Linked DNA regions of Homo sapiens: region 2 is linked to region 1. The links come from fine-mapping of genetic effects on gene expression. A gene starts in region 1. The other region holds a variant in brackets. All regions are shown on one strand. Distances are from middle to middle. Region 1 holds the start of NUDT7 (nudix hydrolase 7). Region 2 overlaps LOC107984878 (a long non-coding RNA gene).

Region 1 (15,811 bases):
TAATATGTTACTATGTGAGGTATTGTGTGTGGTGATATGTTACTATGTGAAGTAGTATGTTACTATGATGTGAGGTAGTAAATTAATTAGCTAGATTTAGTCATTCCACAGTGAATATATACTTCAAAGCATCATATTGTACAGGATAAATCTCTACAAGTTAAATCTATTTAAATCTAAAAAGATAAATCTATTTAATTTTGTTTTTAAAAAAGAAAATATTACGCTGTTTTGAAGAAAACAGGCACATTTCTAAAACTGACTAATCAAAAACTATTAGCACTGCAAAGGGCTCTAAGCACAAAAGCGGTCAGTTATTTTTTTGATAAATAGTATACATTTCTTATTCAATAAAACCTTCTGAAATGCTACTCAGAGGCCAAGTAAAGCTGCAGCCTAATTTCCTAAGACTTCAATCTTTGCTTTGTTCCTGAATTTTCTCTTGCCTACTTCCAGTCCCAGAGAATGGGGTGCAGGGAGGAGGGTGGAGGAGGGTAGAAGAGGGGACAGAGGAGGGATGCGAGGTCAAGGGTGTGGGGGAGAAGAGCAGGACCGATAATGCAGAGCAGCTAATTCCTGAAAACTATAAAGTGGGTGGCTTTGAAGGCCTGAAGGGCTGTGCCCAGGTGTGCAATGGAGAAAGGGGTTTGCCAGCTCTTTGCTGGGCACCAGGGATCTAGGGTTCTGAGAGGAGTCCCTTATCCAAGGTGGACCCGGACAAGGAGATAACGAAAACATAGGTAGCATCCAACAGCATGCAGCACTATGGCATGCCAGCAGCCGTGCTGGGCGTTTTACAGATCTCTTTCAGGCTCAGAACAACCTTGCACATGAGGCGCTGTTTTCAGGCCCATTTTAGGGATGAGAAAACCGAGGTGATTAAGAGATTTACGAACTTTGCAGGCTGGGCGTGGTGGCACACGCTTGTCATCTCAGCACTTTGGGAGGCCAAGATGGGCAGATCACCTGAGATCAGGAGGTCAAGATCAGCCTGGCCAACCAACATGGTGAAACTCCCTCTCTACTAAAAATACAAAAATTAGCCAGGCGTGGTGGCGTGCACCTGTAATCCCAGCTAATTGGGAGGCTGAGGTGGGAGAATTGCTTGAACCCAAGAGGCGGAGGTTGCAGTGAGCTGAGATCACGCCACTGCACTCCAGCCTGGGCGACAGAGCGAGAATCCTTCTGAAAAAAAAGAAAAACTTGTTCGAGGTTCCAGAGCTAGTGGGAGATTGCACATTTGAGAAGGGTTAACCCACTTCTTGCCTTGCTTTCCCCATCCACTGGGGGGAAATCTCCTACCAGCGCCCTGCTTGTGTGAGGGGCAGAGCTCCAGTAGAGCTCCAGAGGGAATTTCTCACCCCTACAGCCAGATAGTGTTTACAATCAGATTGAATTAAATTTAAATAGTTTTTAAAAAGTGACCTTAATAATCAACAGGCAAAAGTGGCTCTGGGTGAAACAAAAGAAACTAGAGACCCCGTTGGTTGAGTTTGTAGTATTGTCTAGATTTCCTATATTATTGTTTGTTAGACAATTCTCTTTTATTTATTTATTTATTTTTATTTATTTATTCATTATTGAGATGGAGTCTTGCTCTGTTGCCCAGGCTGGAGTGCAGTGGCACGATCTCGGCTCAATGCAACCTCCACCTCCCAGGTTCAAGTGATTCTCCCTGCCTCAGCCTCCCCAGTAGCTGGGATTACAGGCACCCACCACCACGCCTGGCTAATTTTTTGTATTTTTAGTAGAGACAGGGTTTCGCCATGTTGGCCAGACTGGTCTCGAACTCCTGACCTCAGGTGATCCGCCCACCTCAGCCTCCCAAAGTGCTGGGATTACAGGCGTGAGCCACCGCACACGGCCATATCTGATAATTTTAAAAAATATATGTAAGTGCTTCTCCTGTGCTTATTGGCAGAGGTGGGAACAGACACTGGTCCCCTGGTTTCCATTTAAGTATTTCCCCCTGGAACCTGGATTTCTATCATGTCCTGAGTTCACGGCATTTCTGCCTGGCTCAGACCGAACACAATCCACACAAGTCTACTTCCACGTCCACAAAACTCCAGCTGATTCCTTGGCATTTTTTTTTTAAACAAAATACTTTTCATTATTCTGCTTAAAAAGCCTGTTAATATGGCTTATTTTCTTTTTGTACTTGGATAAGCTTAAAATGACTGCTTCACCAGCTTTTCCTTGGAAGTTCCCCACAGCAAGGGAAACTGACTGTGCTCACGGGTGTGGGGGTGGTAGAGTTTCGATATTTGTCCTTGCCCAAATCTCATGTTGAACTGGAGTCCCCAGTGTTGGAGGTGGGGTCTGGTTGGAGGTGACTGGATCACAGGGGCAGATTTCTCACGCATGGTTTAGCACCATCATCTTGGCACTGTCCCCATGATAGTGAGTGAGTTCTCATGAGATCCGGGGCCATTTAAAAGTGTGTGGTATTTCCCTGCTCTCTCTCTTGCTCCTGCTCCCCCTCTGCCATGATGGTACACTCCCTGAGGCCTTTCCAGAAACTGAGCAGATGCCTGTGTCATGCTTCCTGTACAGCCTGCAGAACCATGACTCAATGAAACCTCTTTTCTTTATAAATTACCCAGACTCAGATATTTCTTTTTCTTTCTTTCTTTCTTTTTTTGAGATGGAGTCTCGCTGTTCCTCAGGCTGGAGCGCAGTGGCACAATCTCGGCTCACTGCAACCTCCGCCTCCTGGTTTCAAGTGTTTCTCCTGCCTCAGCCTCCTGAGTAGCTGGGATTACAGGTGTGTGCCACCATGCCTGGCTAATTCTTTTGTATTTTTAGTAGAGATGGGGTTTCACTATGTTGGTCAGGCTTGTCTCGAACTGCTGACCTCGTGATCCTCCCACCTTGGCCTCTCAAAGTGCTGGGATTACATGCTTGAGCCACCATACCCAGCCTCAGGTATTTCGTTATAGCAATGCAAGAATGGACCAATACAAGGGGTGAGCCAGAAACTCCATTCCCAGCCCATTATTTCTGTAAAGTGACATCATTTATCTTAAAACTTCAGGTCATGTCTGACAGGTCACTTGACACTAACGATGACAGCTAAAACTTACTGAATTCTTCCTTGCCAAGTACCTGGGTTATATAGGTGCTTTACATTTGTTACCCTGTGAAATGTTCATAGCAGCTGTATGAAGCAGTTACTAATATTTTGTCCTCATTTTACAAGTGAAAAGACTGAAGTACAGAGAGGGCAAGTAACGAGGCCAAAGTCACAGCTGGCAAGGAGAGAGCCTGGATTCAACGTGGACAGCTAGCTTTAGAGCCTAGGCCGTTAACTTCTATGCTCTAGTATTTTCACATTATACTGGGGGTGGGATAGTCTAAAACAGTGGCCCTTGGTGGGGGGCAATTTGGCACCCCCAATCCTGCCAGGATAGTAGGCAATTCTGAAGACATTTGTGGTGTGTGTGCTACTGGCATACTGGACAAAGGGACAAAGGTGTGTGTGAGCTTGTGTTTGTGTGTGCTACTGGCATCTGGTGGGTAGAGGCCAAGGATGATGGTAAACACACCACATTATACAGGACAGCCTCCACACCAAAGAATTATTCAGCCCCAAATGCCAATAGCACCAAGGTTAGGTAACCCTAGTGTGAAAGCGTTTTAAACTGCTTGCTAGCTAAATTCCTTCATTTTCTTGTTAAACCTTCTCCAAGAAACACCATGTTATCCTGTGGCTTGTGGTTGTATGCCTCTGACATCACAATTTTGAAAGCCCTTTTGAGAATTTTGGCATCAAAGTGTGTGCAAGTGACAAAATCTCGTGAGGTCTTCTGATGTCCTGAGGTTTAAGGGCAGGAAATTTTTTGTCCACCTACCTTCTCTGACCGGACGGTGAACAACAAATGGAGTTTTCCTTCTTTAGCCACCAATGGCAAAAGGACGGAGTATTTGTTATATGGCAAGTGAGAATATTTGCCTCCAATATCATACTTTCTTAAGCGGGCCTTAGCATCATCTAGCAAACTGTTTCTAAAATAAAAACAAACCAGACAGACATTTTAGCAAGCAGAGTTATGGTAAAAAGCTTATAGTCCTGCCTCTGTTTCTGCTTTGTTGTGTATTTAGGAGTTTGCCATTTCTGACTCTCTGTGTATTTTTCAATAACACGACAGAAATGATACTATCTAAATTGCGTGGTTGTTCGCAAGATGAAAATGACAAAAAAACCTTCTAAGCACACAGTTTAGTACACAGGTTCTCTTTGAAACATAAAGTATGGTAAAATGTTTTTTCAATAATGCAACAGTTGAATTTTGAAACCCATAATTATATTCAGAGAAGACAGGTTTGATGAAAAAGTCATTGTTAAGGTTAGAAGGTTAGAAGACTACCTTCTGTTAAGCTGGCCCTTATGTTCTCAAACTCTTATGTCTTCAACTGCTTATAATAGTGGTTCCCAAGCTTTAGCAGCAACAGAATCACCTGGAGCGCTGGCTGTCACATAGACTGCGAGGTTCAGTCCCAGACTGTGACTCAGTAACTCTGGTGTAGGGCCTGAGAATTAGCATTTGTATCAAACTCCCTCATGACAGCGTTACTGACGCTGTGGACAGGGGAACACATTCTGAGAACAATTTCCCAATAATATGCAAGCATTTGGATTTAAAACCGCAAATGGTGCCCTTCCTATGTGGACTTGTTTTGGTCCTTTTGACAGGTGTGTTCTACTGCTAGTTTGTATAGTGGGTTGAACAGTATCCCCTCACCCCTGAAATTCATGTCTACCCCAAACTTCAGAGTGTGACTTTATTCAGAAATAGGATCTTTTCAGATGTAATTAAAGTGAGCTCTAAATCCAATGACTGTTGTCCTGATAAGAAGCAGAAACGAGCCCAGTGCAGCGGCTCACGCCTGTAATCCCAACACTGGGAGGTTGAGGCGGGAGAATTGCTTGGGCCCAGGAGTTTGAAACCAGCCTGGTCAACATGGTAAGACCCTGTCTCTACAAAAGAAAAAAAAAAAAAGCATAAATTAGCTTAGGCATGGGGCATGCAACTGTATTCCCAGCTACTTGGAAGGCGGAAGTGGGAGGATCACTTGAGCCCCAGAGTTCAAGGCTGCAGTGAGCCATGATTGCACCACTGCACTCCGGCCTGGGTGACAGAGTGAGACCTGACTCAAAAATAAAATAAAATAAAAGAAGAAAAAACATGGAGAGATGCACACAGGGAAGAAGACCATGTGAAGATGGCGGCAGAGGTTGAAGTGATGCTGCTGTGAGCCAAGGAATGCCAGAAACCACCAGAAACTGGAAGAGGCAAGGAAAGGTCACCCCCAGAGCCTTCTAAGGGAGTGAGGCCCTGCCGATACCTTGATTTTGGACTTCCAGGCTTCATAGCCATGAGAGACCATTTCTATTGTTTTAAAACACCCAGTGTGTGGTACTCTGTTATGGCAGCCCTAGAAAAGGAACAGCTGATTTTACTTTTTCTGTGGGAAGGCAGCTTTGCATAGTGGGCAGAATCAGCTATTTAAGATACCCAGAATTGGCTTCAAATGTATATAGGAGGCCTGGTACAGTGGCTCATGCCTGTAATCCCGGCACTTTGGGAGACTGAGGAAGGTGAATCACTTGAAGTCAGGAGTTCGAGACCAGCCTGGCCAACATGGTAAAACCCCACCTCTACTAAACATACAAAAATTAGCCGGGCATCGTGGCACATGCCTGTAATCCCAGCTACTCAGAAGGTTGAGGCAGGAGAATCGCTTGAACCCAGGAGGCAGAGGCTGCAGTGAGCCGAGATTGCCTACTGCACTGTAGCCAGGGCGGCAGAGTGAGACTCTGTCTCAAAAAAAAAAAAAAAAAAGTGTATACAAATGACTTCTCTGAGTTTCATCTTCATTTGTGTCAGGCTTGAGGATATTTAAGAAGATTAAATGATGCAGTTCATATACTGTGGCTGGCACACAGCTGGTGCTCAGGGAATGGTAACCACTGTCATAAATCTCCCCATCATTAGATAAGCAGTTGTTTGCAGGAGGTATTTGCTATTTTTTGCCTCTTTCTAGGTGGCAGGGTGCTCACCAGATGTGGTTGGGTAACGGCAGTGTATTTCAAAGACCAAATGGCCTGAAAAAAATCAGTGAATGCTGGCACAGGGATTGCACAGTGCATCTGGATGCACGCAGGCCAGCCTCCAGAAAAGGAAACTGTGGGCTGGTGGCTTTTAACCACCCGGAAACCACAGAACTGACCAGACAAACCAGCCAAAGTAAAAGGCTGCAAAAACGTTATCTGTCCACTTTAGGGGCTGGCCGCTGGAATAATCACCAAGGTATCAACAGCAGTAGCAGCCACCCCGTTCTGAGCATGGTCTCAATTTTGACGTTTCTCATTTTATCCTCACAACAGCCCGGCAAGTGATCACAGGGTCACCTCCAGGCTCAGAGAGTTTACGAAACTGACAGACCCAAGGTCACAACTGAAAGTAGCCACCGGGGGACTTGAATCCGGGGCTGCCTGCTGCGGGTCTGTGCCACTGTCGGGGGTCCTGGGGTCCAACTCTGGAGACGCGGATTGCAGAACAGCCAAGCCGGCTGGGAAGGGGAGCAGCGTGTATGTAAACCATACTGGCTTAAGCCGGCTCTGTTCCTGGCCAGAGCAGTGCAAAGGTTCGGGGACCCTGCGGGTTGCTGGAGGCGAGTGCTCCCCCATCCGGCGCTCGCAGGTGGACTGGCGGGAGCTGCAAAATCAGTCCCGGCCAAAAGGCCCCGGTGGCCTCCGCTACGATCAAGGCCGGGCCTGACCAAGCTCGGGGTGCCAGGGCCCGGAAAGCCTTTACCTGACTGGCTCCTCGGGAAGACCAAGTCGTGACATTGCCCTGGGGAATGTTTGTTTCCGGGCGGACTCCTCGGAGCTGCTCGGTCGGTCGCGCTTGCGCAGAGCAGCTCTGGGCTTGGGAGCGGCCTAAAGCCAGAGAGAGGGGCGGGGCTTAGAGCACGAGGCGGGGTGGTGTCTGGGGCGGAGACAGGGGGCGGGGCGGTGCGAGATCTGGGATCGGAGGCCGGGATCGGGGCGGGGCGGGGCTTATAGCCAGAGGCGGGACTTGAGGTGGGGAGAGGCGCGGGGCGGGACTTAGGGCCGGGTGTTCCTGGTTGCTCAAAGCAGTTTCTGCCGGGCTCCTTGGGCTTCTATGGAAGCAAGAGGTATAGGAGGAGTTGTGGAATTTAGAGCTGGAAGAGTTAAAAAAAAAAAAAATACAGTGTTGGTGAGGTGATAATATTTTACACTCGCATTCGCTGTTGCTGGAAGGTTAAGGTGATTCATTCAACTTTTTGGAACTGCTGTCAGCACCTGTTCACCGACCACCTGTATGCACTGGGTGCAGATCCCACAGCTAGCGAAAAGACACGTGGAGCTCACAGTCAAATGGTAGAAACATAAATTAATCACACAGGGCTGGATGCAGTGGCATATGCTTGTAATTCCAACACTTTGGGAGGCCAAGAGGGGAGGATCACTTGAATCCAGGAGTTCGAGCCCAGCCTGGGCAACATGGCGAAACCCCATCTCTACAAAATAAAAATAAAAAATTAGCCAGGCGTGGTGGCACACACCTGTGGTCCCAGCTACTCAAGAGGCTGAGGTGGGAGGATCGCTTGAGCCCAGGAGGTCGAAGCTGCAGTGAGCCGTGATAGCACCACTGCACTCCAGCCTGACAGAGGTAGACCGTCTCAAAAATAAGAAGAAGAAGATAAGAAGTTTTTAATGCAAAAAAAAAAAAAAAAAAAAATCACACTGATAAAGCAGTGGCCTTTGGTCCTTCTAGAGCGTGTGAAGGAGAAATGTGACCCAATTAGGAGACAGAAGAGGCTTGGTAGAGGAAATAGAAGTGCAGCTCATCTTGAAAGCAGTAGTTCTCAAAGTGTGGTCCTCAGACCAGCAGAATCAGGATCACTTTGGTCCTGTTAAAAATGTGGACTCTGGGCCAGGCGCTGTGGCTCACACCTGTAATCCCAGCACTTTGGGAGGCCAAGTCGGGTGGATCACCTAAGGTCAGGAGTTTGAGACCAGCTTGGCCAACATGGTGAAACCCCATCTCTACTAAAAAAACAAAAATTAGCCAGTGGCAGGCGCCTGTAATCTCAGCTACTAGGAGGCTGAGGCAGGAGAATCGCTTGAACCTGGGAGGCGGAGTTTGCAGTGGGCCGAGATCGCGCCATTGCACTCCAGCCTGGGCAAAAAAAAGCGAAACTCTGTCTCAAAAACAAAACAAAACAAAACAACAACAACAACAACAACAAAAACCAAGAAAGAAAGAAAGGAAAGAAAGAAAAGAGAAAAGAAAAGAAAAGAAAAAAGACGAAAAGAAAAGAAAAGAAAAGAAAAGGTGGACTTTGGGGCCCATGTCACAACTGCTGAATCAGAAGCCAGGTGTCAGGCCCAGTGATCTGTGCTGTAAGGGGATTCTGATGCTCTGTGCGGGATAGAGGACATAAATGAGGAAAAAGGCAAGGGAGAGTGTTCAAGGAAGAGGGCAAAGTTTGTGCAAAGACAGCAGAAAGGGGCTGGAGAACAGTGTGTGTGAGGGAGCCTGGTGCGAGCTGAGAATCCAGGGGTCAGTGTAGGGCTGACTTCTCCCTTACAGGCACAGGACACACACAGTAATTTTAGGGACCTGTGAAAATGTTTTAATTGTAATTTCTTTTTAAATTAGAAGAAGAAAAGGTATGTAATAAAAGCAATATATAATAATGAATCCAGCTTGGATGATAGTCATTTTATGAATTCAGTCATAAAATATTCACTTTAAAATTATTTTATGGAAGAAGGGGTGCACAAAAACAAAGTAGCTAGGGCCCATGAAAGTAATATTGTGGCTGGCCCTAGGTCAGTGGGGCAGTTTGTGAAATTATTAATGAAATGAAATATTAATGAAATATCGCTGTGATATTTACAACATCCAGTGTTTACACACCGTGACATCAATGAAATATCGATGTGATATTTATAATATCCAGTGTTTACACACTGTGATATTAATAAAATATGGCTGATATTTGTAATATACAATGTTTACACACCGTGATATTAATATAATATCGCTGTGATATTTATAATACCCAGTGTTTCCACACTGTGATATCAATGAAATGTCTCTGTGATATTTGTAATATCAAGTGTTGATGCACCATAACATCAATGAAATATCACAGATATTTACAACATCCAGTGTTTACACACCATGACCTCAATGAAATATCAATATGATATTTATAATATCCAGTGTGTACACACCGTGATATTAATAAAATATGGCTGTGATATTTGTAATATACAGTGTTTACACACCGTGATATTAAGCAAACATCGCTGTGATATTTATAGTATCCAGTGTTTACACATCGTGATATAAATGAAATATCGCTGTGATGTTTATAATATCCAAGGTTTACAAACTGTGATACCGATGAAACATCGCTGTGATATTTATAATACCCGATGTTTACACAAAGTGTTTACACACTATGATGTTAAATATCGTTGTGATTTTTATAATATCCCGTGTGAAATTAATGAAATATCACTGTGACACTCATAATATCCAGTGTTTACACAGTGCTTACACGCTGTTACGTTAATGAAATATCACTGTGATATTCATAATATCCAGTATTTACACACAGTGCTTACGCACTGTGACATTAACGAAATATCGCTGTGATATTCATAATATCCAGTGTTTCCACACAGTGCTTACACACTGCGATATTAATAAAATATCGCTATGATATTCATAATATCCAGTGTTTGCACACAGTGCTTACACACTGTGACATTAATGAAATATCGCTGTGATTTTCATAATATCCATTGTTTACACACAGTGTTTGCACACCGTGATATTAATGAAATGTTGTGATATTTCTAATATCCAGTGTTCACACATAGTGTTTACACGCCATGATATTAATGAAATATCGATGCAATATTTATAATATCTAGTGTTTACACATCATGATATTAAGGAAATATCGGTGTTATATTTATAATATCCAGTGTTTACACACCGTGATACTAATGAAATATCGCTGTGATATTCATAATATCCAGTGTTTACACACAGTGCTTACACACTGTGACATCACTGAAATATTGCTGTGATATTTACGATATCCTGTGTTTACACACTCTGATATTAGTGAAATATCACTGTGATATTGACAACATCCAGAGTTTATACACTGTGATATCAGTGAAATATCGCTGTGATATTTACAATATCCAGTGTTTACACACTGTAATATCAGTGAAATATTGCTGTGATATTTACAGTATCAAGTTTACACACTGTGATACCAGCAAAATATTGCTCTGATATTTACAATATCCTGTGATTACACACTGGTTACACACTGTGATATCGGCGAAATATCACTGTGATATTTACAATTTCCAGTGGTTACACACTGTGATATTGGCAAAACATCGCTGTGATATTTCCAATATCCACTAGTAACACGTTGTGATATTGGTGAAACATCACTGTGATATTTACAATACCCAGTGGTTACACACTGTGATATCAGCGAAATATCGCTGTGATATTTATAATATCCAGTGTTTACACACAGGGCTTACATGCTGTGATATTAAAGAAATATCGCTCTAATATTTATAATATCCGGTGGTTACACACTGTGATACTAGTGAAATATCACCCTGATAATTATCATCTCCAGTGGTTACACACTGTAATACTGGTGAAATATCATTCTGATATGTATAATATCCAGTGTTTACACAAAGTGTTTACACGCTGTGATACTAGTGAAATACCGCTCTGATACTTATAGTATCCAGTGTTTACACACAGTAATACTAGGGAAATTTCGGTCTGATATTTATAGTGTCCACTTTTTACACACTGTGATACAAGGGAAATTTCGCTCTGATATTTGTAATATCTAGTGTTTATACACTGCGACATTAGTAAAATTTCTCTCTGATATTACTAATATCCAGTATTTACATACTGAGACATTAGTGAAATTTCACCCTGATATTTATAATATACAGCGTTTACACACTGTAACATTAGTGAAATATCGCTCTGATATTTATAATATCCAGAGTTTACACACAGGGTTTACACACTGTGACACTAGTGAAATATCAGTCTGATACATATAATTTCCAGTGTTTACACAAAGTGTTTACACACTGTGATACTAGGAAAATTTGACTCTGATATTTATAGTATCCAGGGCTTACACACTGTGATACAAGGAAAATTTTGTTCTGATATTTATAGTATCCAGGGTTTACACACTGTGATACTAGGAAAATTTTGTTCTGATATTTATAGTGTCCAGGGTTTACACACTGTGATACTGGGGAAATTTAGCTCTGATATTTATAAAATCCAGGGTTTACACACTGTGATACCAGGGAATTTTCGGTCTCATATTTAGAGTATCCAGGATTTACACATTGTGATACTAGGGAAATTTTGCACTGATATTTATAGTATCCACGATGTACACACTGTGATTTTAGGGAAATTTCGCTCTGATATTTATTGTATCCAGGGTTTACAAACTGTGATATTAATGAATATTGCTCTGATGAGGATACATGTAATATCCAGGGTTTACACGCTGTGATATTAATGAAATATCGCTCTGATGATAATAATTGTAATATCCAGTGTTTACACACTGTAGTATTCATGAAATATTGCTCTGATGATACTTGTAATATCCAATATTGACACACTATGATATTAACAAAATATCACTCTGATGATACTTGTAATATCCAGTGTTTACACACAGTGATATATATGAAATATCAGTGTGATGATATTTACAATATCCACTGTTTACACACTGTGATATTAATGAAATATTTCTCTGATGGTATTTATAATATTCAGGGTTTACACACAGTGATATTAATGAAATATCTCTCTGATGATGTTTATAATATTCAGTGAGTGAAATATCACTCTGATATTTATAATATCCGGTGTTTACACACTGTGATATTAATGAAATATGGCTCTGATATTTATAATATCCAGTGTTTACACACTGTGATATTAATGAAATATTGCTCTGAGATGTATAATATTCAGTATTCACACACTGTGATAGTAATGAAATATGGCTCTGATATTTATAATATCCAGTGTTTACACACTGTGATAGTAATAAAATATCGCCATGATATTTATAATGGCAGTGGTGTACACACTGTGATGTTTATGAAATATCGCTCTGATAATTATAACATCCAGTGCTTATACACTAAAATATTAATGAAATGTCACTCTGATATTTATAATATTCAGTGTTTAGACACAGTGTTTACACACTGGGATATTAATGACATCTTGCTCTAATATTTATCATATCCAGTGTTTAGACACAGTGTTTACACACTATGATATTAATGAAATATCACTGTGATATTTATAATATTCAGTGTTTACACACTATTGATATTAATGAAATATCGCTCTGATATTTATATTATTCAGTGTTTACACACTGTGATATTAAAGAAATGTCACTCTGATATTTGTAATATCAGTGTTTACACAGTGTTTAAACACGTTGATAATAATGAAATATGACTCTGATATTTATAACATCAAGTGTTTACACACTGTAATAGTAATGAAATATCCCCCTCATATTTAAAATATCCAGTGTTTACACACTGTGATATTTATAAAATATTGCTCCGATATTTATAATATCAGTGTTTGCACACACTGTTTACACACTGTTATATTAATGAAATATCACTCTAATACTTATCATATCCAGTATTTACACTCAGTGATTACAAACCATGATATTAATGAAATATTGCTCTCATATTTATAACATACTGTGTTAACACAATGTTTACACACTGTGATATTAATGAAATATCACTCTGATATTTATAATATCCAATGTTTACACACGGCTTCCATGTTATTATGAATAATATCACAGGGTGTACACCCACTGTGATATTAGCCATTATATCAAAGATATTATAAATAATATCACAGTGGATGTACAACCAGGGTGTACACCCATTGGGATATCAGCAGTAAAATCTAAAATATTAGGAGTAACATCACAGGATGTACACCAAGTGTGATAGCAGTACTGTGATATTAGCAGTAATATAAAAGATATAAATAACATCACAGGGTATACACCCATTGTGATATTAGCAGTAATGTCGAATATATTAATACTATCACAGGGGGTACACTCACTGTGATGGTGGCGGTGATATTGAAGGTATAATGAATAATATCACAGGGTGTACACGAACTCTGATATTAGTGGTAATATTGAATATATTATGAACAATATCACAGGGTGTACACCTACTGTGATATTAGTGGTAATATGAAAATGTTATGAATAATATCACGGAGTATACACACAGAGTGTACACCCACTGCGATATTAGCAGCAATATCGAAGATATTATGAATATTTTCACAGTGTGTACACTCAGGGTGTACATCCACTGTGATATTAGCTGTAATATCGAAAATATTATGAATAATATCACGGAGTATGCACACAGGGTGTACACCCACTGTGATTTTAGTGGCAATATCAAAGATATTATGAATATTTTAACAGTGTTTACACACAAGGTGTACATCCACTGCAATATTAGCTGTAATATCGAAAATATTATGAATAATATCACAGGGTGTACACACAGTGAGTACGCCCACTGTGATATTGGGAGTAACCTCTTGAAGAAGATATTAAACATAATATCACAGGGTGGACACACAGGGTGTACCACCCCTGTGCTACTAGTAGGATTTCTCTAAGAAGATGTTAGGCATAATATCTCAGGAAAGGTACACATGGGGGATACACCCCCTGTAATATTAGCAGTAATCTCTCGAAGAAGATATTAGGCATGATATCAGAGGGGATTACAAACAAGGTGTACCCACGCTGTGATATTAACAGTAATCCCTCAAGATATTAGGCATAATATCACAGGGTGTACACCCACTATGTGATACAAGCAGTAATGTCTCAAGGATATTGTGCACAATATAACAGGGTGTACACCCAGAGTGTACACCCACTGTGACAGTAGCAGAAATATCTCTAGGATATTACGCATAATCTCACAAGGTGTACACTCAGGGTGTACACCAACTGTGACAGTAGCAGAAGTATCTCGAATATATTGTGCATAAATTTACAAGGTGTACACAAAGGGTGTACAACCACTGTGAAAGTAGCAAAAATATCTCGAGGATATTATTCATAATCTCACAGGCTGTACACCCACTGTGATATTAGCAGAAAGAGCGTGAGGATATCATGTGTAATATCACAGAGTGTACACGCGTAATATCAATGTACACCCACTGTGATGGATATTAGCGGAAAGATCATGAGAATATCATGCATAATATCACAGGGTGTCCACACAGGGTGTAAACCCACGGTGATACTAGCAGAAAGATAGGGAGTATATCATGCTTAAGACCACAGGGTGTAAACACAGGATGTACACCCACTGTGACTGATATTAGCGGAAAGATAGCAAAAATATCATGCATAATATCACAGAATATACACACAGGGTGTACACCCGCTATGATAGTAACAGAAAGATCCCCAGGATATCATGCATAATATCATAGGGTGAACACCCACTGTGATAGTAGCAGAAAGATCGCGAGGATATCATGCATAGTATCGCAAGGTGTGCATCCAGGGTGTACACCTACTGTGATGTTAGCGGAAAGGTCGCGAGAATGTCATGCATAGCATCGCAAGGTGTGCACATAGGGTGTACACTCACTGTGATATTAGCAGGAAGGTCACGAGGATGTCATGAATAGTATCGCAGGGTGTGCAAACAGGGTGTACACCTACTGTGATATCAGTAGAAAGGTAGGGAAAATGTCATGCATAATATCGCAGGATGTGAACACAGGGTGTACATTCCCTGTGATATTAGCAGAAAGATCGCGAGGATATCACGTATATAATATCACAGGCTGTACAGCCACTGTGATGTTAGCAGAAAGATTGGGAGGATATTATACATGATATTATACATGATATTATACATGATATTATACATGATAATATCACATGTATAATATCACATGGTGTAAAGCCACTGTGATATTAGCAGAAAGATCGCGAGAATATCATGTATAATATCACATGATGTAAAGCCACTGTGATATTAGCAGAAAGATCGGGAGGATATCATGTATAATATCACATGGTGTAAAGCCACTGTGATATTAGCAGAAAGATCGCGAGAATATCATGTATAATATCACATGGTGTAAAGCCACTGTGATATTAGCAGAAAGATCGCGAGAATATCATGTATAATATCACATGGTGTAAAGCCACTGTGATATTAGCAGAAAGATCGGGAGGATATCATGTATAAGATCACATGGTGTAAAGCCACTGTGATATTAGCAGAAAGATCGGGAGGATATCATGTATAATATCACATGGTATAAAGCCACTGTGATATTAGCAGAAAGATCGGGAGGATATCATGTATAATATCACATGGTGTAAAGCCACTGTGATATTAGCAGAAAGATCGGGAGGATATCATGTATAAGATCACATGGTGTAACGCAGGGTGTAACAGTCACTGTGATATTAGCAGAAAGATCGCGAGAATATCATGTCTAATATCACATGGTGTAAAGCCCCTGTGATATTAGCAGAAAGATCGGGAGGATATCATGCATAGTATTGCAGGGTGCGCACCCAGGGCATACACCCACTGTGATATTAGCGG
Region 2 (15,811 bases), 30 kb before region 1:
TTTGTACACACTTGTTTTGTGGCCTAAGATATGGTCTATTCTAGAGAATGTTCCATGTACAGGTGAAAAGAACGTGTATTCTGCAGCATTTGAGTAAAATGTTCTGTAAATATCAGTTAGGCCTACTAGATGGAGTGTGTAGTTTAACTCTACTGTTTTCTTTGTTGATTTTCAGTGTGCACAGAGTTTTAAGGACACAAATCAGATGGGCATGAGTGAAGTGCCCAGGATGGACCTATGTTCATCCCACCAATGATTCAGTGCCCCTCCTGGTCAGGTGTCCAGAGGCCTCACACTTTTATTATGTCCATTATTCCCAGCAACCCTGCAGAGTAGGCATCCTAATGCTTGTTTGACAGATAAGGACATGGAGGCCTAGAGGATTAATGGCTTTGGCCACACCCACATGGGACTAGAATTGTGTAACTCCAACATATGTGGGTTACTTTTTTTTTTTTTTTTAACTTTACTACCTTTTCGAAATCATGGATAATATACATGTGCTATGGGGCTTTGCAGAAAGATTAGTGATCCCAGCTAAATGGAGATTTTCATCCTCCAATGAAACATGCTCATATTACCAGGGACAGAAATTGGACTTGCTAAACCTAGGCTGAAAAGGAACCAGAGTTTTTATCAGGGCATCTTCTTAGGGAAAGTGACAGCCCAAACGCTCAGAAGGCAGAGTGAGCCCTGCGCAGACAAGAGGGCTGAGAGGGTGGAGAAGGAAGGGCCTTGCCTCCCTGTTGGTGGTAGAGAGGATGTAGAGGAAGGTGCATGAGTATGAATCAGCCCTGTAAGAGACCCCACAGGGTCAGATCAGAGAAGCTAAGGGCAGTCAGCAAATCCAAGGAGCAAGGAAAAGGCAAAAATAGGAGGAGAAATTAAGACTAGTTCCAGATCCAGGACTAGATCCAAAACCAGAGACTAGATCCAATGCCAGGACTAGATCCAAATCCAGGACTGGATCCAGAACGGGGACTAGATCCAGAATGGGGACTAGATCCAGATCCAGAGACTAGATTTGGATCCAGAGACTAGATCCAGACCAGGACTAGATCCAGAACCAGGACTAGGTCCAGATCCAGCACTAGATTCAGAACCAGGACTAGACTGAGAACCAGGACTAGATCGAAATCCAGGACTAGATCTAGATCCAGAGACTAGATCCAGAACCAGGACTAGATCCAGAGCCAGGACTAGATCTAGAAGCAAGACTAGATCCAGATCCAGAGACTAGATCCAGAACTAGGACTAGATTCAGATCCAGAGACTAGCTCCAAATCCAGGACTAGATCTAGATCCAGAGACTAGATACAGATCTATAACTACAGAGGGACAGCAATGGTATCAAGAGCCAAACATCAGCCACAAAGGGAGCCACATCCTTTATCCATCGCCAGCTATGCAGCCTTGGCAGGTCTCTTCTTCTGCTGCCTGAGAATGGTTACACTGATGCTGAGTGGCGGTGAGGAATGGAACGAATCTACACAAGGCTTCGGTCATTCTATGCTGTGATGAAAGTGACCAATTCTCTTAGAATCACAGTGTCTGCTATTGTTCTTTATGAGTTAGTGGACTTATGGTCCCAGATGGAACAAAGTGACCTGACATACGAGTTTGCCACAGAGTTCCTGCAGCTTCTGAATGAACAAGCCCTATATTAGCAAGCTTTTTCTTGGTATTGTTTGGGTTATAGTTTTATGGCATAGAAGATAAAGAGAAATCTTTGCATTTTTTCTAAATTATTGAAGATCATCAGAGGTTAGGAGGAGAAAGGAAAAGTAAACTTTGGGTAGCAAGTTTTAATCTTTTTTTTTTTTTTTTTTTTTTTGAGACACAGTCTCGCTCTGTTGCCCAGGCTGGAGTGCAGTGGTGCGGTCTCGGGTCACTGCAACCTCCAACTCCTGGGTTCTTGCCATTCTCCTGCCTCAGCCTCCCGGGTAGCTGGGACTACAGGCACCTGCCACCACGCCCGGCTAATTTTTTGTATTTTTAGTAGAGATGGGGTTTCACCATGTTAGCCAGGATGGTCTCGATCTCCTGACCTTGTGATCTGCCCGCATTGGCCACCCAAAGTGCTGGGATTACAGGCGTGAGCCACCGCGCCCAGCTGGAGGATTGTTTTTATGGAAGTGCTGGTAGGGGTGGGATGCATTCTTTCCTTTGGACTTTAAACTTGTGAACAGAATTCTATAATCCAGGTGTTTTGGGTATTGTTTCTAAAAATACTTTGGCCCCTTAATGATTTAATTTTTATTGATCAACTTTAGGGTAATGGAGGATAACCCAATAAATTAATAACATATTGCATGGTTCATTTCTCATTAGCTCATCCAAGATCAACTGCAGAGGAGGACGAGGGAAATTTTATATGGGAACAATTATCTGAAAAATGTGAGTATCTCAAGATAATCTGATTGCTTAGTTTTAGCTAACCCTGAGGTCTAAATACTTACAGCCAAGAGAATTTATCTGATGAGTTTAGTCCAAGAAACACAACTTTATTTTCCCACTACTAGCTGAATATAAGTGTCAATTTAAGAGTGCTACATGCCCTACAAACATCGATCGCCTCATGTTCCAAATGAAAAAGTTCATTAGTGAGCTTCTCTCCTGATGTGTTATTATTAACTGGAAGCTAAAATTAATGAATTTTGTCGGATTGCCTCAAGTAGTGATAGGGAATGATAGAATTCTTCAGCAGTCGATTTCTATTCTATCATCTGCTTAGTTTTGTTGTTGTTGTTGTTTTCTTTTCTTTTCTTTTCTTTTTTTTTTTTTTGAGGAGTCTTGCTCTGTTGCCCAGGCTCTGGAGTGCAATGGTGCAATCTCGGCTCACTGCAAGCTCTGACTCCAGGGTTCACGCCATTCTCCTGTCTCAGCCTCCCGAGTAGCTGGGACTACCGGTGCCTGCCACCACGCCTGGCTAATTTTTTGTATTTTTAGTAGAGACAGGGTTTCGCCGTGTTAGCCAGGATTGTCTGGATCTCCTGACCTTGTGATCCACCCGCCTCGGCCTCCCAAAGTGCTGGGATTACAGGCATGAGCCACGCGCCCGGCCTTTTTTTTTTTTTTTAAATAAATGTCACTCATAGGGGTCTTCTGAACTTAGTATGGCCTGGAAATCTCAGGGCACAATGGATAAATTGCATTATATTTCTCCACTGCTGTAAATGTATTTGATATTGGGGTTCCTTTGGTTGCAAGAGACAGAGATCCAGTTCAGACATGCTTAACAAATCATGTTATCCACACACATAACTTGGAAATTCACTGATGATCAATAGCCAAAGGCAATATGAAAACATGCTGTATAGATGAAAAACACAGCTACCACCAAGCCCTTAACACATCTGATTTCTCTTCTTTTGGTCTTTCATGGGAAATGTAACATTAGTGGGGCTGGAATATAGGTTCTGTAATAGCAATCCTCACTTAAGTAGCCTTGTGTTCTTGGGCAAGCATTGAAATTCACCAAATCTTTCACTGTACAACAGAGCTTGCCATTCTAGTCTGGCACATAGGATTATAAGGACAAGTAAACAAGAAGCCAAGTGACAGAACTCTATGAATATATGTAATCGTCCATTTCATTTGTTCTTTGGGTCCTTTTAGACCCAACTGTTTCTAGTAGAAGTGGGTGTGGAAGAGGAAGCCATGGAGAAATAGTTGCCTACTCAATGTGGGCAGAGAATGAAGGTTTTCAAAATCGACAAGTCCCATGAAACGACGCACTCTTAGTGTTGTACTGAAAATCTGCAGAATGAGAGACACATGTCTTCTGAATATGATGGCTCAGACTATTTCTTATTTATAATATTTTCCCAAATAATTTCTCATATTTTTCTGTAATTTAAATCCATATTTTCAGGTCAGGATGCTTGTGATCGTTTAGTGGACTTGAAATTTTGCACAATGATGAACGATTTTTTTCCTGTCTTGATAAGCAAGTCATAGGGGATGGTCTGGGGAGATACATCAAAATTGTTTAATACAAGCACGTGTTTAGAACCTCAGAGCCCTACAGAGGCTTCCTACGTTTATCTGTATGAAGATCTCTGTTTTCTCCCCTGAGGCTGCACATAGGAACTGCTAAAGCAGTACAAGAAATACCAGCCACCGCAGTCTATCTTATATAATGATTTCCCTTTCAGTCTCAGGTTCTTCTGCCCAGACTCAGCTTGTTATCCCAGGCTTTATTCCTTTCAGGTTGATTTTACCCAAGGGGACTTGTGCTTCTGGCATCTTGTTTATAGCGGGATACCCTACAAAGCTCCAACATGCCTGCGCATGGCTGGACTCCAATGCTGGCAAGTTGCAATGTTCTTCCTGGTACATGGCTCAGCCCCCATGTGAATCGGTTAAAGAAAATAGATACCCAAGAGAGGGAGCAGCCACAGCCTCACATATCTTCCTTACATTTAGAAAACTTTCTCAAACTTCTCAGAGTGTTTTATATGTGGCCATTTTTTACTGCAGGTGTGAATATAGTAAACTGGGGTTAGAGGGGTGATGTTATGGCGCACGCAAGCAATGGACTTGGAGGGAGAACGAAAGGGAAGGAAGATGGTCTCGCAGCCATGAATATTCTACTAAAGTGTGGCCTGGGCAGCTAAACTGATGTACTCCAAAGATGTGCCAACGATGGCCTCCCTCTGATCACCTTAGGTGAATTCAGTCCCTGAAAATTCTAGTTTCAGAATTTGAATTTTTGCTTTCTATCTTTTTTAATTTAGGGATTAGGTTTTTTGTTTTGAGGGGATTTTGTGTTTTTAAGTTAAAAAAAAAAACTCCTCATACTCAGACATTCCAAGTCCTTATATTTTATATCCTTTCAAAACTTTGTTTTTAAAATTACTTTTATGGATTATTAAAGCAGTGTGTACACATTGTAGAAAAATTAGGAAAAAAGCCCCCCAAAAATAAAAACTACCAAAAAACAAAGAATGTAAGTGATAATTATAATCCCAACCTCCTCCCTGAGAAGACAATTTTTAACACCTCTATGAATATCCTTACAAATAGAGAAGTATGGATAAAACTGACAAAAATGAAATCATATATATCTTTCTATAATTTACCATAATTTATTTAAACCATTTACAACTTGTTTGGTGTCTAGGTTGCCTTCAATTTTTCCTAATGTATACAAATATAAAGCTGGACTAATTAGCTGAGAATAAATTAGACAATCTTTAAAATAGAAAAAAATGAATAATTCTAAAACATAATTAAATATGCATGAATAGTACTAAAATTAGCCCATGATGAAACAAATCATCAGTATTAAAAAATAATACAAATTAAAGTAGCAGTGCTTGGGAATTTTATTTTTACCTAATCATTACTGTGATTTCATTCTTGTATTGACCTACTTCTTGGCAATAAAATGACCTTGACCATCTAGTTTTCAGCCAAATTAATTCATTCATCCACTCAGTACTTATTTATTGAATTCCTAATGGAAAATAAAATATAATTGAAAGTCCCCACACTCACAGAGCTTGTGTTCTAGTGTGAGAGATAGGAAAAAAAACCAAGTATGTACCCAAAAAATACCAGATATGGAAGTAAAATATGGGTGCATGAGAGAGAATGACATCAGCGTTAGACTCTTCCAGGAAACGACAGGTGTAGTGAGAACTGATGATAAAACAAGTGCCATCCATGCAAAAACCAGGGTGAAGACAATTGCTGGGAGAGGGGCATCTAGTGCAAGAGCACTATGGTGGGGGCAAGCATAGCGTTTCCAACAGGAGAAAGAAGCACAAGCTGAAGGAAGTTCAGTGGCCAAGATCAAGAAGGGTCAGAAGTAGGCGGAGTCCACAATGTGCCAGTTTTGTCAACCAAAGACAAAGGTTGAACTTTATTACAGGCACAGGTGGGTAAGCGCACTAACCCACGCCTGCAATCCCAGCACTTTGGGAGCCAGATGAGAGAGGATCATTTGAGGGCAGCCTGGGCAACATAGCAAGACCTTGTCTCTACCAGAAATGAAAAATAAAGAAAGAAAAAAATAAAGTCAGTCACAGTTGGACGACACTAGAAGGTTTTAGGCCAAGAAACGGCATGACTTTATTCATGACTTCAAAAGATCACTCTGGATGTTGGGTGAAGAAGGGCATATAAGGAGCAAGAATAGGTGCAGGGGAGGTAAGGGGTTGAGGGGGATGATGAGTCTGGGACCAGGTGCTACAGGTGGAAAGGGGGACAGGATGCATTTAGGGTGTGAATCAGAAGCAGAATGAACAAACTTGCTGATGAAGTGCAGGGAGCAAAGAGGGAGAAAAACAAACTGAAGCATAACGCCTCTGGGACTACTAAGAAGA[A/T]TTATTTTGTCTGGTGAGTGTTTTTGGACAAATAGCATAACATGTTTGGGCACCTATTATAATATAAAGCATAGTACAAAAATTGTTTCTGATAATAATAATTGTACTTTCCACTTATTAAGTACATGCTATGTACTTAATGCTGATCTCTTTTTTTCTTATTGAACATAGAGGGGATAAAAATATGTACGTTGAATTAAATACTATTCCTCTCATCTCACTTATTAAATTACCAAATAACCCATGTTTTCCATATGGCCTTTGCCCGTTTGAGGATTGCATTGCCAAGGAAACAGATTGTTAAGCACAGGCTCTGCAGGTAAATCCTATTAAATATGTCATAATTCAAACAAAATGCACAAAGCCAACTAGGCTTGGGTTTGGAATATTAGCTTCCAAATGTCCCCCTCCTAAGGCCTAACTATATACTTAATAAGGTTCAACGTTTAGATGCCTGTCTAATTCTACCCAGAGCCCTGGACTTGTACATTCCTGACCCAAATCCCTGATCTGAATGTCAGAATTTTTAATTAACCTCCCCAAATGGCATTTTCACATAATAAACTCTATGCATGCTGCTAGCTTCGAACAGTAGACAAAAAGTGATCCTTTTCTTTTCCTCAGTCAGATTTTTCCTTTGTAAAACATTAAGCAGAATGGCTTCATTACCTGGATATGCTTAAATGAGGCTGGGGAAAACCCAGAATTGGAGATTTCAAAAGGAAAAGGAATTAGAGATTAACTAGTTCCAATCCGCTTTATACGTAAGGAACCTGAGGTTCAGCAAGATTGTGATTTCTGTCTGCAAGGTTACAGAGCATATTTATGGACAGTACTAGGGGCAATGCCTACCTCCCCTGGCTGGTGATGTCTTCCTTTGTCTCAGGGTTCTTCCATTCACCACCCTCCTCCTAAAAGTCATCCTTGTTGTTCCTTCAGTATAAATTCTTCATTTCCTCCTCCCTCACCTACGTCCTTTGCTCCCCAGTCGTCTCTTCTGGCCCTCATGGCCTTAGCTCTACCTTTCTTCTGCTCATTTCCTAAATGCAGCTTATTCCTCCAAGTCCCACTCCTGATCTTATCATTCACCCCCCTCACTGCAACTCAGGCTCAGGCTCATCAAGCTCGTTACTGGATCAATGAATTCACCCACCAAATGTGTTTTGCACAGCATGTTTTTTTCAATTCAGTGCCCATGGCTTTTGCTAGAAGGCTGTCCTCATTTGACCCTTGTCATTTCATTAAAAAATATCCAGTGGAGTGAGAAAAAAGTGTAATTGAAACCAATGTACCACAAATAAACTCTTCTTATTTAGGAAAATTCACTGCTGAGCTTATTGAATGTGGAAGGTGGGTCCTAGTGGGCATGAGATGCATGGAGCCAAATAGACACCATCCTCTGAAAAGGAAATGAATGTCATTTTGGTGGTGGGAGCAAAGAGAAAAGCAAAAAGGAAGAACAAGCATGTGGAGGAATACAGCATCAGCCTGATACCCAACTTGGTAGAATGGACAGGACTTTTAAAGAACAAGAAAAACATAATATTCAAATTTAAGTTTGGCTCTCTTATGTTGCAATCAAAGTTTACCTGGCTGATATCCCTGTGTCTCCAATTAAAGCCACTCAATGATTTACATACAAGTTACTTTAGGAAAAACAAGGAGAAGCAGTCTCTGTCCTGGATTTGGGTTGGCACTAAGGAAAAAGACCTCAAGATGCAGAATACAGAACTAACATTCACTGAAGCTGGAAATTGAACCTAAGGTGATTAGAAGAAAGGTACTCTCTGAAGGATTTGAATAAATCTTGGGGAGAATATCGAGCTTTCCACTGGAATTACAATGGGGATTTAAGGCAAGTTTTTGTAGATATGAAGGGGCATGGGTCCTAAATATATGGCTAGCATTGAGGCTAGAAGGGTAAAGAAGAGCTAAGTCTGCTCCTCTGGTAGTTCATAGTACATCAAGACAGCTAGGTATGGAAATAACTAAGTTACAAGGCAAAAACTGGTTAAAGATAGGAGCCACTCACTCATGTCCACTCTGGTAGAGCACTTTATATACCTTATACAGTAAATGCAGGAGGGGGTGATTTACAACAATGCTAGACCACCTTAGGTTGACCTTTGTCAAGCAGTCTGTTGGGAAGAGACTGAATTTTCCTTAGCCCACTGAATTAGCTATTTGAGTAGAAATAGCTACTTCTCATTTAGTTGTACTCTTTTATTTAACAAATATCCATTGAGCACCTACTCTTTACCCAGTGTTGTGCCAAGTGCTAAGAGTACTCTTGTGTATGGACCAAAATTGAGACATGACTGTGCCATTATGGAAGTTGAAGTCCAGAGAATGAGGGGACATCAATCAAAGAATCAAGGGGATATCATATTGTAACTATGACAGGAGTTATGAAGTAGAGGTACATGGCACCAAGAGAGCTTATAACAAGGAGAACTAACCTAGCTAAGGTGTCAGAGAAGGCATCCTTCAACAATAAGTATGAGGTAACCAGGCAAAGGGAAATGATTGAGGGATCAGCTTGTGCAAGAGTTCTGAGGCACCCATGGACTGAAACTGAGCCTCTACAGGCCAGTGCTGTAGGAGTGGATGAGCAGGGAGGGGGCTCATGGTACTACACATAACCAGATAGGTAGACAGGAGCCAGGACACGGCCTTGTAAGAGCCATCCATCTTTTTCATAAAAAACAATGGGAAGCCATTTGAGTGCCTCAAGAAAATATGATGATATTTATATTGAAAAATAACTCTGGCTATAGAAGAGAGATGGTGCAGGGTAATAGTTACCAGATAGATGCAAAAGTTTTCAGACGTTTATGACAGCTTTAACTAAGTTGATGTCGGTAGAGATGAGAAGAACTAGATTTGATAGATATTCAGAAGATAAATTCAGTACGATTTGGCGACGGATTAGATATAGGAGTGTCTTAATTTGGTTTACCTAGAAACCTAAAGACAAGATTCAAGTTATTTATTTGGAATCTACAGGGCACATTGTTATGGGAGTGGAGAAATGAGACAAAGAAGGGAAGGCAGCCAATGAAAAGAAGTGTGAAACTTGCCACCACAGCGGGCACCCAGAGTTTAGTTCAGTTTGGGAGCAAGTACAGAACACCTGTCTCAGAATTATCCCACCCAAGGGGCAAAGAACCTGAGCTACTGATATGCAAAATCCCATCAGTCATTGGTTGAGGGTTAATGTAGGGGACATTAATTCCCTGTCACTTCCAGCTGGCCTGCTGTGGCTTTGGAAAAAGCCTGCAGGAACACAGATGCAAATGTTGGCTGTTGGAAGTGATCTGGAGCTCACTGCAATGGTAGGGTCCTAAGGATGTGGGTAGGACACAGACTGTATCTGTACATGGGGTGATCATTACTTCTCCAGTGTCCTAGTGTCCTGGCCACACATGAGTCATCTAGAGCCACTCTGTCCAGTAGAAATATACTGTAAGCCATGTATGTAAATTTAAATTTTCTAGTAGCCACATTCAAAAAAGTACTAAGAAACAGGATAAATTAATTTTCACCCTATATTTAACCCAACATCTCTAAAACATTATCATTTCACCATGTAGCCAATAGTAAGTCTTTGAAATCCAGTGTGTATTTGACTCCTACAGCATCTCAATTTGGACTAGCCACATTACAGGTGCTCTGTAGCCAGGGGTGTCTTGTGACAGCTTCACAGTTATCTCATGGGCTAGCCCAGACCCAAAGGCTTCTCCAGGAATGTTGATTCAGACTTTGATACATTTGCTTTAGCTTCTGTTTACTGGACCAACAAAGAAGAGGTGCAAAGGACACATATGTTATCAAAGACATCAGTGAGTTGACTTGGGTCTCCATTGTCCCTCTTTGTTCCTTATAGAACCTAAAGGCAGTCTATAGAGGAGTCATGGGGGCAACTGTGGTGGGGGAGAGGTGAGAAGAGCCAAGCAAGCAGTAATCTGTCCCCCTCACATACTTAACTGTCAGAGCAGTTTTACTTCTATATGTGGCAGGCAGGCCAGGCATGGCGGCTTATGCTTGTAATACTAGCACTTTGGAAGGCTCAGGTGGGAGGATTGCTTGGAGCCAGGAGTTTGAGACCAGCCTTTGCAACATAGCAGGACCTTGTTTCTATTTATAAAATAAAATATAATAAACATGATGTGGCAGACAATGAGTTTCCCATCATCCTCTTCCTTGTTAGCCGGGTCTGCCTCTCACAGTGGAGGAGAAAATGTCAGATGCCTATTTTCCTAATTTTTCTTGCAATTAGCATATGGGCTTAATCTGTCCAATGGGTCATATAGCTAGTGATGAGAGGAGACTGGGTTTTCTGTCTTCAGTCTTTCCTACCATACCATATTGCACTTCCAGAAGACTCTACATGTGGATAGGTCCATTCTAAGTTAAGAAAGAATAGAACCTAAGGTCCCCATAGTGTAAAAGGGTGTGAGAAAAGAGAAAAGAGAAGGATATAAAGACGTGTGTTTGTGATATGTTAGGACATTTTCCAGTGAAAGTTATAGAACTCTTTCTAAGCTTGCTCAAGCACGTTAGGGAATTTAACTACGAAGGGTGGGAGCATTTCATGGAAACCATGGAAACATCCGGGTCTCAAGAACAAACATCCAGGGATTCTAATGCCTTCACAACACACGACTGACTTTCATTGCTCTTCCATTCTGGTCATTGACTTTGTTCTCCTCTCTTGTTGCAGACAAGCTTTCTCTGCTTCCCAGGGCAAATGGTGGAACACAAACACCCACATATGCTCTCTTCCGGAGGGCAGGCAGACAGACTCTGCTGTTGCTTGGTACTAATCCCAAGGGAATTACTGAGGGACTAAATCTGATTAACTGAGTTTATGCTGGGAGGTCAGCAATGTCCTGTTTCCATGGTAATCCCAAGACAGAGGGCAGAGCTATTTCTCAAAATGAAGAGATGTTTCAGAAGGGGGCTGTGTAGTTTCCTAGGGCTGTCCTAACAATTTGCCACAAACTTGGTAGCTTAAAACAACCGAAATTTGTTATCTCACGGTTCTGAAGGCCAGAAATCTGAAATCAAGGCGTTGGCAGCATCACCCTCCCTCCAAAGGCTGTGGGGAGGACCCTTCCTTTCCTCTTCCAGCTTCCGGTGGCTCCTGGTGTTCCTTGGCTCGCGGCAACATAACTCTAATCTCTGCCTCTGTCTTCACATGGCTTCTTCCCTGTGTCTCTTGCAACTGTGTGTCTCAAATTTCCCTCTTTTTTTATTTATAAAGACACCAGTCATTGGATTTAGGGATTACCGTAAATCTAGGATGATCTCATTTCAAGGTCTTTAACTTAACTACCTCTGCAAAGATCTTATTTCCAAATAAGCTCACATTCACAGGCATTGGAGTTAGGATTTGGACATATCTTTTCGGGACCACTATTCAATTCACTACAGGGGGCTAAGATGGGTTAATATATGTTTGTAACAGGTTGAGAGTTCTAGCAAAATGTTCCCACTATCTTCAGTTTATCATTTAGCCTGATATTAGACCATACAGATTTATAGTCAGAAAAAATAACGTAGGCAAATTTTCAGAATGCTGTTTGGGATCCGTGAAATATAGCTGAAACTGAAGGCTGATGGAAGAAGATGAAATGAGACTAGAGTGAAGAAACACGTGAAGAAAGTGAGGAGAAGAAAATAATCGGAAGGAAAACTTCAAGTTTCACATAAATGATAAGTGAAAAAGAGAAAAAAATTGACACAGAGATGTCATTGACATCCATGATGAAGTAGAGAGTAAGGGCTTGAAGATTTAAAATGAAAATTGAGGAAAGTTATAGTTGAGGAAATATTAAACCAAGTCTACACCTATAAAATTAAAATTTATGGGCTTGAGTATGAGATCTTTAAGAAGGATAAATTGCTTCAGGAAATATTCTTCTTCCAGTTGTATCTGATGAAATCCCTGACACGACAACTACTGCTTAGAGCAAAGACATATTTCTACCATTATTGGCCAACTAACTTTAAACTCTGACTTCTTGGGCTCACTCATCAGTATGTACATGGGCCAAAATATTTCCCAAGCATATGTTACCTTCTGGCATTGCTCAAAGTTTTTTGAAAATCGAATGGACTTTAGATCCGGTATTTAAGTAGATCATACAAGTCATAAGCCACTGAATTAGGGGCCACCTATGGGTTTGCCATTGATCCTTGGTCCATTCATTTGAGGATAGGGGAACTCAGAGTGAGGGGTCTTATGGTGCATGGATCTGTCCCTTCCAGGGTTAGGTCTGGAATAAACACAGAGATACACATGTATTATACAGATATGCAAAGGAATGCAATGAAGTGGTGTCCATGCTATTAACATAAAGTAAGGGGTAGTTGAAGAAGTGTGCATGGAGAAATTGGCTCATAAATTCTGAGTTGTGTTCAATGTGGCGTGGCCCAGGGAGGTGGCTGAGTGGGGATGGGAGGGCAATGAAAAATTCTTAACAGGCCGGGTGCAGTGGCTCACTCCTGTAATCCCAGTACTTTGGGAGGCCGAGATGGTAGGATCACTTGAGGTCAGGAGTTTGAGGCCAGCCTGGCCAGCATGATGCAACCCCGTCTCTACTAAAAATACAAAAATTAGCCAGGCATCATGGCACGCACCTGTAATCCCAGCTACTCAGGAGGCTGAGACAGGAGAATTGCTTGAACCCAGGAGGTGGAAGTTGGAGTGTCCCAGCATCAAGCCACTGCACTGCAGCCTGGGCAACAGAGCAAGCTCCATCTCAAATAAATAAATAAATAAATAAATAATTTAAAAAAATCTTAATTGGGTATACACACAGGTCCCATTAGGAACCACACCAAGTATGTCACATCTGAGACAACTGGACTGGGAGATGATCACTCTAGCAATTTTAACAAAACTTCATGCTATTCTCAAATACGAAAGCAACTGTTAACAAGAATGAACAGTTGAATAATATCTAATCATCCTGTCTAAGAGGTGGAGGAACGTTTTCCCTTCTCAGTCCTTTAACTGGAAAGCTGGCACCATGAACAAGTTGTTAAATTAGCAAGTATGCCAGCACTTTCATTTATTAATTGGTATGTTCCATTTTAATCAAAATCATCCTGGCTAATTACTCATTTCACTGTGTGCAGCACCAGCTGAATAAGCTGGAGGACATGATGAAGGAAAAAATAAATGCTGTACTCTCTCTAGTTTATTAACTTGGAATTGTTTTCCCTTTCATATGTGGTGACTCAAGGGAGACGTAAATTTAACCTTCTATTCTTGCCTCATCTTCAAGTATGTGGTTATAGCAGAAAGAGTATGGGCTATGAAACTCAGGCATGTGGGTTTGGATGTTGGCTTTGCCATTTATGAACTGTGTGACAATGAGGAAAAAACTAGCATCTCTGATCTTCAAGGTCTCCTATCTAAAAATAGGAGTAATAATAGCATGTACTCACTACAAAGAGTTGATGTGAGGGTCAATGAAATAAAATGAAAGACTGGGTACATAATAGATAAATGTTAGTCTAACTCTGAACTAGAGAAATAACAATGATTATTGTTATTGTTATGATATAATGTTACAGTTATAATAGTACCATAATTAGTAGCCAACTGGTAACTGGGCACTTATTTCCCAGGCACTGTTCTGAGCACTTTGGTATGCTTTAAGTAAAGAGGTCACATGTGTTAACTCATTTAATCCCTGACAGCCCTAAAACAGAATTTATTTCTCCTACATTACAGAAGAGGAAACTGCGATCTACAGAGAAGGAATAACTTGCCCAAGGTCACAGAATAGGCTGACACTGGAGCTGAGGTTCAAAGCTAGGCATCCAGACTCAGCACTCTTAACCGCTTTTTAAACATTTTTTATTTATACTTATTTATTTATTTTGAGACGGTGTCTCGCTCTATCACCAGGCTGGAGTGCAGTGGTGTGATCTTGGCTTACTGCAACCTCTGCCTCCCGGGTTCAAGTATTTCTCCTGCCTCAGCCTCCCAAGTAGCTGGGACCACAGGTGCGTGCCACCATGCCTGGCTAGATTTTGTATTTTTAGTAGAGATGGGATTTCACCATGTTGGCTAGGATGGTCTCCATCTCTTGACCTCGTGATCCACTGGCTTAGGCCTCCCAAAGTGCTGGGATTACAGGTGTGAGCCACCGCACCTGGCCATCTTAACCACTTCTTTACCAAGATTGCAGGGTTGCAAAGAAGACAGAGTTGAGCTGTCTGAATGGCAGAATCTAGAGCATTTATAAAATCTAGGGACTGGAGAGATTAGATGTTTTGGGATGTCCATCTAGTCCCCACTTAGCCCTTGCCTTTGAACATATTTTTGGGTTCCTGGAAACCTTCCAGGTGACCCATGTTAGGCCAGATAGAATTGGGGACTGAGGCACTGAGTGTCTGTTGTTTTTCTATGTCGGTGTCAATCAATTCAAGATGTTTCTTGTAGCAATAATGACAGGATACAAAAGAAAAGGTTCACATCCTTCTGGCTTTGAGGTAGTTAGCTGTGTTTGTTCCTTACTGCCTTTTTTTTTTTCTTTGACACAGTCTCACTCTGTCGAGTAGACTGGAGTACAGTGGCACAATCTCGGCTCACTGCAACCTCTGCCTCCCAGGTTCAAGCAATTCTGCCTCAGCCTCCCAAATAGCTGGGATTACAGGTGTGCACCACCACACCTGGCTAATTTTGTATTTTTGGTAGAGATGGATTTCACCATTCTGGCCAGGCTGGTCTTGAGCTCCTGACTTCAAGTGATCCACCCGCCTCAGCCTCCCCGAATGGTGGGATTACAGGCATGAGCCACTGCGCCCCGCTGTCCTTCTTGAAGCTGATTTATTCAGTGGCTTCAGAGAGTCCCTGAGATCCGTACCTTGCCAATAACTTATTTTATTTGAGCCAGATATATTTAACTAAGACTCTGAACATAGATACTATAAAATACACCACTAAGAAGGAAGGGGGCAATACCTCCTTTGCTAAGCATCCAGCCCCATAAATTGTGTGGCCATGGGTGTGCTCAGATTGACTTCAGCTGGACCAGGCAGATCTGGGAGAGTTCACATAAACAAACAGTTTGGAAGGGAGGCTTTCTGCACTGTCGGAGAGGTCAACCATCTACCCGGCAATTATACTGCTGTCAGATTGTAAATACACATTTGCAAATGCTTCTGTAATTGTTCGGAAATAGTTCAGGCCTGTTCATGCAGGGCTGGTTACAGAATGTTAATGGGGTAACGTACCCAACATCTGCTTTCATGGTTGGAACCAGATCTCTGCCATTTAAACATATATGGGTATAAAGCAGCCAATCAGGTATTTGCCTTTGCCAACTCTCAGAAAAGAAAAACTCAGCCGCAATGGACAGTCACATGGCTGATTGATAGGTTTGGTGTGGGCATCACATTTTCAACTATAACAAAGTCTTATTAAACATGGTTTGGCTCTCTAAAAAGCTAATAACAAC

Evidence for each region. PIP is the estimated chance that this variant, and not a neighbour inherited with it, causes the effect.
Region 2: its variant is fine-mapped to the expression of NUDT7 in prefrontal cortex (BrainSeq, PIP 0.95).

What each region holds. Positions count from the first base shown.
Region 1 is chr16:77,713,628-77,729,438 of GRCh38, reverse strand. It overlaps NUDT7 (nudix hydrolase 7), which reads right to left and starts at 6,925. Exons shown (of 4, transcript NM_001105663.3): 1 at 6,822-6,925; 2 at 3,855-4,008. The coding sequence starts at 6,856. RefSeq lists a silencer at 6,950-7,079 and an enhancer at 6,793-7,087.
Region 2 is chr16:77,743,973-77,759,783 of GRCh38, reverse strand. LOC107984878 (a long non-coding RNA gene) reads left to right here. Exons shown (of 6, transcript XR_002957866.2): 5 at 2,332-2,397. Among named protein-coding and RNA genes, the nearest start is that of NUDT7, 29 kb to the right of the region's middle. The variant A/T (reference allele first, on the strand shown) is at 6,333.